Linked DNA regions of Homo sapiens. The protein of the gene in region 2 purifies or fractionates together with the protein of the main gene of each other region. This does not show direct contact. Each region holds a gene or a part of one and is shown on either strand. Other genes may lie near its edges. The genes, in order: RPAP2 and POLR2J3.

Region 1 (3,816 bases), on a different chromosome or scaffold from region 2:
CCTTCCCTACCCACTCCGGTAGCTGAAGACAAAGGGCATATATTCTTGGGAGTTCTACGGCCCTACCCACAGCCTGATCCTCCCTATACTACCACAACTGATGCTCTCTTGAAAGTGCCACCTTCTGGCAGGAGGCTAACCAGCACAAAAATAGTACATTAAACAACCAAAAGCAAGGATCCTCACAGAATCCATTTCACCCCCCTGCCATCTCCACCAGAGCAGGTGCTGGTATCCATGGCTGAGAGATCTGCAGACCTGACCTAAGAGATTATCCAAGTGGTCAATAAGCAAATAAAATAGTGCTGAATTTATTCATCATCACAGTAATGTATTATAATCATAAACCAATACTACCAGAATGGCTAAAACTAACTATATCAAGTACCAGGGAGGACATGGAATCAAGGAAACTCCCATATAGTAGTAGTGGAACTGTAAACCGGTACAACCACTTTGGAAAACTGTTTGGCATTATCTAGTATAGTTGCATATATGCATATACGATAACCCACCATTCCCAGTCCTAGATACTTCAGAAATACATACGCATATTAGCAGAGAGATAAATACGAGAAAGTTCCTAAGAATATTGTTCATAATAGCCCCAAATTGGAAATAGTCTAAATGTCCATTAGCATAAATAAATGGTATATTTATATAATGGAATACTATACAGCAATAAAAGAATGAACTACAGCTATATGCAACAACACAAATGACTCAAAAGTATAATATTGCATGAAATAAACTGGACACCAAGAATATATACTGGAAAAAAAATGACAGAACTAATCTGTGCTAATATAATATTAATTTTGGAAAGAGGTGCTGATTAGGAGGGGATATATATGGGGCTTCTAGTTTACTTGTAATGACCTATTTCTTGGCTTGGGTAGTGATTACATCAGGACATTCATATGTGAATACTCAAGAAATCATATAATTACTATTTGTGTTGTACTTCAATGGAAATGTTTTAACATGTTATGTAACATTTTTGGAAAATGTTATAAATTTTTAAAAGTCAAATTTCAGGGATTATTTTTTCCTTTTTAAGGCTAAAAAGGACAAAATGATAAAATAAGTGATGTTCTATGGTAGGTTTATGCAGCTCAGTGACAGAGATCAATGTTTCTCCTAGCTTAATATAAGTTTTGGATGATGTCTAATAAGATACTTGAAATGATTTGAAGTAGGGTGCTGGGCCAAGCAACACTCTATAGAAATATATTTCTAAATTTTTTACTACATTTCTACTTCTACCCTCTTTCCAAATCTCCAATGTGCTTTTAAATTTAGAGCCACATTTACTTAGGAATATTTGAGAACAAAGTTTTGTGGTAAAAACAAGGTTATTACCCATTCCTCTTCATGTTAAATGACTTCATTTTCCAGGGAGTATACATCAATCAAAGATGGGTAGTAGAAATACTAAAAGATGCTCTCTAAATCTCAGTGGCACATTTTCAATCTCTACATATGGGTACTATTTACTGAGTACCAATTATATGTCATGTACTGTGATAAATGCTTTATACACATTATCTTTAAAACAAATAACAATTGAGCAAGAGAAGCTATTAATAGTTCCATTTACAGATGAGCAAACAGACCAAGAAACTAATTTTTCATACAGCTAGTAAATGACACAACAGATGTTCAAATCTAGGTCTATCTGAATGTGCTTTCCATTCTCTTTGTCCATTATTTCCCAATAAGTCTCTTTTACAAACTATTTTGATCTGTAATGTTTTCAATGGACATGCTTGCTAAATATTTTCCAATGTAACTACCAAGTCTATTCCATGGCATATACTTCCATTAAACACACACACACAGACCCCATGTAAAAATCTGAAAGAATACCGAAGAAGAAAAAGCAAGCCTCTTCAGAGGCTTCATTTATTGTATGAAGAATTAGGGAAAACTTTGTCCCACCATTTTAGGCTATTTTTACATTAGAAAAAAATATTGCACACTGATGAAAATTTGCTAGGGGTAAACGTCAACTTATTTGTAAAATAGTAATGCCAACAGTGGAGATGGCACTGTAAACCAAAAGGCAGAATGACTAAAGAAACTATTTGAAAATTTAACAATTAACTCTTCAATATCCTTCCTGCTCCAAGATTTGCTGTGGTGAGTTTTCCAAATGTTAACGATCTGGAAAAACTCAATGTCTGTAAGACATACCTCTTCTGAGTCTTGTGATTTGGTGGTTTCTTCACCCAAAACATACCGTCCTCTGTAAAACTCCCTGATCCTCAGATTTAACTTTTCAGTTTCTTTTTTCAAATTCTCGTAACTTGGCAGTGGTTTAATGGCTGTACCTGAGCCCCTAAAAGGTAAAGACTCATCCAAGCTGTTCTGAGATTCCCTCCAGGCAGGGAAATGACTATCTGGATCTGAGATTATGTCATCTTCATCAAGTTCTTCTTTAACCAGAGAGGCTTCGGGTTTCAGACACACAGAAGCATAATTCTGGCCATACAAAAACCTCAATGTTTCTTCTGTCTTCCACTCAATCAAAGTCTCCTTCAAAACTTTAAGTAAGTTTCTCTTTCCAACTTCAGGACACACCTGCACTGAACTAGACACTGACCTAGACACTTGGTTTGATTTGGCAAATTTTCTCTTAAAATGCTCTGCACTTTTCTTACTTATGCCTACTAGAGTTATTTCTGACCTACTGTATTCACTTTCAGAATTTTCTGACGCTTTTAATCTTTCAGGCAAAGTGCTATTTGAAGAACTCTGAGTATTTACTTTCTGTAAAGGAAGTTCACATGTAGCATCTTTCTCCTGACTATCTAATTTGCAATCGCCTAACTGCTCAGTGACATCTACTACTGTCTGTTCTTTGTCTTTGTGTTTGGAGTTAGCTTTGTGACCAGCTTTCTTTTTCATTATGCTTTTTTGGTGCAGCTGTGGTCTAATATTTGTTGAATTTGGTCTGTTTCCTGGTAGAATGGAGGAAACAAAGTCTTGCTCATTGTCACTGCTACTATCACTGTGAGTGCTAGAAGAACTAGATTCATATTGCTTTTCAAAGTGGCTAGGATTGTCGATATCTGATGTTTTAATGGCTTTACTGCATAACTGTACTTCTTCTCCAGAATGGCCACTGTAGAATGAAAGAGAAATAAAATAACTAAATAAAAAATAGCAAATAAAACCCGAAAACAATAGAAAAGTAAAGTACCCCATAGTATTTATACATTGTAACTTTCAAGGTAGAAATTTTTATTCCCCAGACAAAACCTTATTTCTAGGTTCTGATATATAAATTTCAGAAGAAGCCTATAATTTCAGTACATCTGTTAATAATATATTTTTTGATATAGTTCTCCTTCTGTATTCTTCCTTCATCTTTTTCCCCCAATTATTTTAAAATTGTTACAGGAGTACAGCAAAACTTTTTAAAAAACTTGATAATGCTATCCTACTGCACTATTTGGATTTGCCTGTTGTTGCAAATATATATATATATATAAATATATATATAAAGTATATATATAAATATAAAGATATATAAATATATAAAAATATAAAGTATATATTTATATGTACACATATTTACATATATAATATATACTTGTACATATATAATGTATATTATATATAATATATAAAGTATATATGTAGTTTAAAAAATATATAATATGAAAAATAATATAAAAATAAATATATATTTTTAAGACAAAGTCTGTGTTGCCCAGGCTGGAGTGCAATGGTGTGAACTCAGCTCACTGCAACCTCTGCCCCCTAGGTTCAAGCGATTCTCCCACCTCGGCCTCCCAAGTAGCTGGGATT
Region 2 (4,597 bases):
CCTGTAGCTCAGAGAGACTGAGGAAGACTTGGAACTTGTGCTTTGCCCAGAGGGGCCCATTAAACATAGCCCCTGAGAGCCTGTGACGGGAAACTTACGATTTAATGATGTTTCCCAGTGTGTGGTCTTCTTTGTTGATGGTGAATAAACAGGCATTGGGTACCTTGGTGTCCTTGTTAATGGTGATCCTAGGAAGACACAGAGGCCACAGATGAGGAGCAGGGGCTCCCCTCCTCCCACCCTGAGTCTAAACCCTGTCTCCTCCCGGCCAGGTGTGGTGGCTCGTGTCTGTAATCCCAACACTTTGGGAGGCTGAGGTGGATGGATGACCTGAGGTCAGAAGTTCAAGACCAGCCTGCCCAACATGGCAAAACCCTGTCTGTACTAAAAATACAAAGAAAAAAAAAAAATTAGCTGAGTGTGGTGATCCATGCCTGTAGTCCTAGCTACTTGGGAGACTGAGGCAGGAGAATCACCTGAACCTGGGAGGTGGAGTTGCAGTGAGCCGAGATCATGCCACTGCACTCCAGCCTGGGCAACAGAGTGGAACTCTGTATCAAAAATATAAAAATAAAAAGGAAAAATAAGCTCTGCCTCTTCCTGAAGGCCTTTCTCAATCTCTTCATCCCATAAAGGCCTCGCCAACCCGGTCCCCTACTTCCTGCTACCCCAGGTCTATGGAACCTTGGCCTTTTCTGAATTCCTCCTTTTTTTTTTCCGGTAGAGATGGGGTTTTGCCTTGTTGTCCTCGCTGGTCTTGAACTCCTCGCCTCAAATGATCTCTCCTGCTGCCCAGGCTGGAGTGCAGTGGTGTGATCATAGCTCACTGCAGCCTCCAACTCCTCGGCTAAAGTGATCCTCCCGCCTTAGCCTCCTGAGTAGCTGGGACCACAGGCGCACGTCATCATGCCTGGCCTGTTCCTTTTTTCTTACGCCAACATAATGAAGCAACCAAAAGGTGAAGAAGAGAGGCCCTGAAGTTACACGGTGAGGCTGGTCCTGACCCTGTGAGTTCCGAAAGCAACCATCCCCCTGGCTGGAGTGTGCAGTCCTTCCATCCATTCCCCAAAACAAGTCATGCTCTGGCATTTACTATGATTTTAGTGAACGCTTAGATGGACAAAGACAGGAAACTTCCATTGGATTTTCCAAGACAAGGGGTTTTCAGAGTGCAGTTCCCAGATAAGCAGCATCAGAATCCCCTGGGAACTTGTTAAGAGTCTCCCACCTCCCACTTACTGGACCCAGAACTCTGGAGGTGGGGCGCAGGGATCTATGGTTTAAGAAGCCCTTCAGGTGATTCTAATGCACACTCAATTTGAGGGCAACTATGCTGACAGTAAAATCTCACACAGGTGAGAGGTATCAAGTTGAATATCCTTTTTTCTAAGGTGGTTTCTCCAGGCTGACACCACACACATTTTAGGGTGCATCATTCTTTCCTGTGGGGTGCTGTCTTGTGGACATTGTAGGACATCAGCAGCATCCCTGACCTCTACCCAGTAGATTCCAGTCATAACCCCCTTTGACAACCAATAATGTTCTCAGTTATTGCCACATGTCCCTTGTGGGGCCAAATGGTCCCCAGTTGAGAGTCTGCTCTAAAGGAGGCCGAAGTGGCTGGCAAGGGCCAGACCAAGACCTCTGCACGCCAACCTGGGAACAATAAGAGCCAATGGTTATGAGGTTTTCCAGGGGCTGAGCTTTGGACCAAGAGTTTTACACAAATTACCTCATCCAATTCTTTTTATTTTGAGACAGGATTGCGCTCAGTCGCCCAGGCTGGAGTGCAGTGATGCGATCAAAGCTCACTGCAGCCTGGAACTCCTGTGCTCAGCTCAAGCAATCCTCCCACCTGAGCCTCCCAAAGTGCCGGGATTAAAAGCGTGAACCAGCGCACCTGGCCAGATCCCTTTTTTTGTTTTTTGAAACGGAGTTTCGCTCTTGTTGCTCAGGCTGGAGTGCAATGGCGTGATCTCCGCTCACCTCAACCTCCACTTCCCAGGTTCAAGTGATTCTCCTGCCTCAGCCTTCTGAGTAGCTGGGATTACAGGCATCTGCCACCACGCCCGGCTAATTTTGTATTTTTAGTAGAGACAGGGTTTCTCCATGTTGGTCAGGCTGGTCTTGAACTCCCGACCTCAGGTGATCCGCCCGCCTCGGGCTCCCAAAGTGCTGGGATTACAGGTGTCAGCCACCGCACCCGGCCTGAATCCCACGTTTAAGTACAGTAATAAACTCATTTTCCAGATGAGGAAACAGGGCCTCCGACAGATCAAGCCACTCGCCCACAGATACAGAGTGAGCCCAAGCTCTCTCCCCTGGACTCCTTCAACCCGCAGGCAGCGAGGAGCCACTGCGGCTTTTACGCAGGCCGCTGACAGATCGGAGGGGATGAAGGATGGAGGTGGCGGGCGAGAGACAAAAAGAGGAAGCTGCCAGATCCCAGAGGAAAAGGGCTATGGAGAACCAGACACTCTGGGTTCGAATACAAGCGCCGCCACTTCCTGTGTCCGGGGCAACTTGCTCGCCTCCAAGCCTCAGTGTCCTCATCTGCAAAATGAACACACTCGCGACTGCCTCGCGGAACGGCCTTAAATTTGGCTGACACAGGCCGAGCAGACGATCAAGCAAAAGCTGTTTCCCTCCCGGGGCAAGAGATGGGCAGGAGACACCCCAGAATGCGACAGCCGCAGGCCCGCGCACCTCGGCCCTCCGCAGCCGGCGTCACTTACTTCTCGCCCTCGAAGAGCAAGAACGACTCGAAGGCTGGAGGGGCGTTCATGCTCCCGCCGCCGTTGCGTCCAGACCCCAAGTGTCCGCCACCGCCGCCACCAGAGCCCTAATAAGAGGCCTCTTCCGGATTACTCCGGCGGGGCAAACCCGCGCAAGGATCGGCTCATCGCCCCCTGTTGGGCTGGAGGATCTTGCGCAGGCGCGAGAAAACCCCGAGCGAGACCAGTGTCTCTGCGCATGCGTCAGTGGCGAGCGCACCGCCCCCCCCCCCCCCCACCCCCCCACCCCGCACCCCGGCATGGCTTTCCCCGTGGGCGCTTTTCGGCGCATGCTCAGAGCGCCGGCAGGGCTGTTCTGCCCCTACAGAGGCCTCCTAGTCCTGGCTGAGCGGGAACCTCAAGCTGTACCTTTCTCCTTTCCCCATGTCCCTTGATCTCTCTTTGGAAACGTGCACCCCCTTGGAGTGCGCAGCAGGAGGCCCCTGAATAGAGAGAATAAAGCTAAGGGGTAGTGGACAGCTGCGGCTAGCAGCCGTAGGGGGAGCAGAAGATCTCGTGGCCAGAGGCAGATCTATGACAAGCCCCCTGCCCAGGCTGCCTATACCGACTGCTGCAGGACCTCTGCCTGGGGGGTGCAGCTGGCTTGTTAGCCGGGAGGGACAATTGGGTGAGGGATGCAGAAGGAGGCAGGTGTATACAGCAGTGAGAGGGGAGCCCGTAGGGTTACGTATATCTTTTTATATATTATTATTATTATTTAGAGACAGCGTCTCCCTCTGTCGCCCAGGCTGAAGTACAGTGGCGCCATCATGCAGCCTCCAACTCCTGGGCTCCAGAGATCCTCCTGCCTCAGCCTCCCGATAGTTAGGACTGCAGGCATGTGCCATCACACTTAGCTATTTTTTTTTTTATTTTTGGAGATGGTGGGGGGGGGGGTCTCCCTATGTTGCCCAGGCTGGTATTGAACTCCTGGCCTCCAGCAGTCCTCCAGCCTCAGCCTCCCAAAGTGCACTTGGTGGATGTGGGCAGCAAGCCACCCAGGTGCCGAGGCAAGAGACCGAGGGCACGAGCTGTTCCAGTATAATAAAATATATAAAATAAGAATAGTTATACTAGATATAGATCTGAGATATGATTATATATGAATCATTAATCATTAGTTTGTAGTAATTATTCTTTATTCCAATATTATAATAATCCTCGCTCTACAATCATAACCTAGGAAAAACCAGGCCATACAGAGATGGGAGCTGAGGGGACAGTGAGGAGTGACCAGAAGACAAGAGTGCAAGCTTTCTGTTATGCCCGGACAGGGCCACCAGAGGGCTCCTTGGTCTAGCGGTAACGCCAGCATCTGGGAAGACACCTGTTGCCAAGCCCACCGTGGTCTAGCTGTAGCGTTAGTGTCAAGGAAAAACACCCGCTACTTAGCAGACCGGGAAAGGGAGTCTCCCTTTCCCCGGGGGAGTTTAGAGAAGACTCTACTCCTCCACAGGCCCGCCCACAGTTACCCGGAGGCATAACCGTCTCCCTGTGATGCTGTGCTTCAGTGGTCACGCTCCTAGTCCACCTTCATGTTCCATCCTGTACACCTGGCTCTGCCTTCTAGATAGCAGTAGCAAATTAGTGAAAGTACTAAAAGTCTCTGATAAGCAGAAATAATGGTGTAAGCTGTCTCTCTCTCTTTCTCCTCTCTCTCTCTGCCTCGGCTGCCAGGCAGGGAAGGGCCCCTGTCCAGTGGACACGTGACCCATGTGGCCTTACCTATCATTGGAGATGGCTCACTCTCCTTATCCTGCCCCTTTGTCTTGTATCCAATAAATATCAGCGCAGCCTGGCATTCAGGGCCACTACTGGTCTCT

The links.
Region 1: the proteins of POLR2J3 (region 2) and RPAP2 purify together in Homo sapiens (affinity purification with mass spectrometry, with the first as the bait; one large-scale study listed by BioGRID). This does not show direct contact.

What each region holds. Positions count from the first base shown.
Region 1 is NC_000001.11:92,322,756-92,326,571, reverse strand, and holds part of RPAP2 (putative RNA polymerase II subunit B1 CTD phosphatase RPAP2), read right to left. Parts: intron 3,128-3,816; coding exon 2,197-3,127; intron 1-2,196.
Region 2 is NC_000007.14:102,569,737-102,574,333, forward strand, and holds the start of POLR2J3 (DNA-directed RNA polymerase II subunit RPB11-b2), read right to left. Parts: upstream 2,848-4,597; 5' UTR 2,786-2,847; coding exon 2,736-2,785; intron 189-2,735; coding exon 99-188; intron 1-98. Other genes in the region: uncharacterized protein LOC124901712, read right to left, coding at 4,071-4,188. UniProt on the Homo sapiens protein: DNA-dependent RNA polymerase catalyzes the transcription of DNA into RNA using the four ribonucleoside triphosphates as substrates. Component of RNA polymerase II which synthesizes mRNA precursors and many functional non-coding RNAs.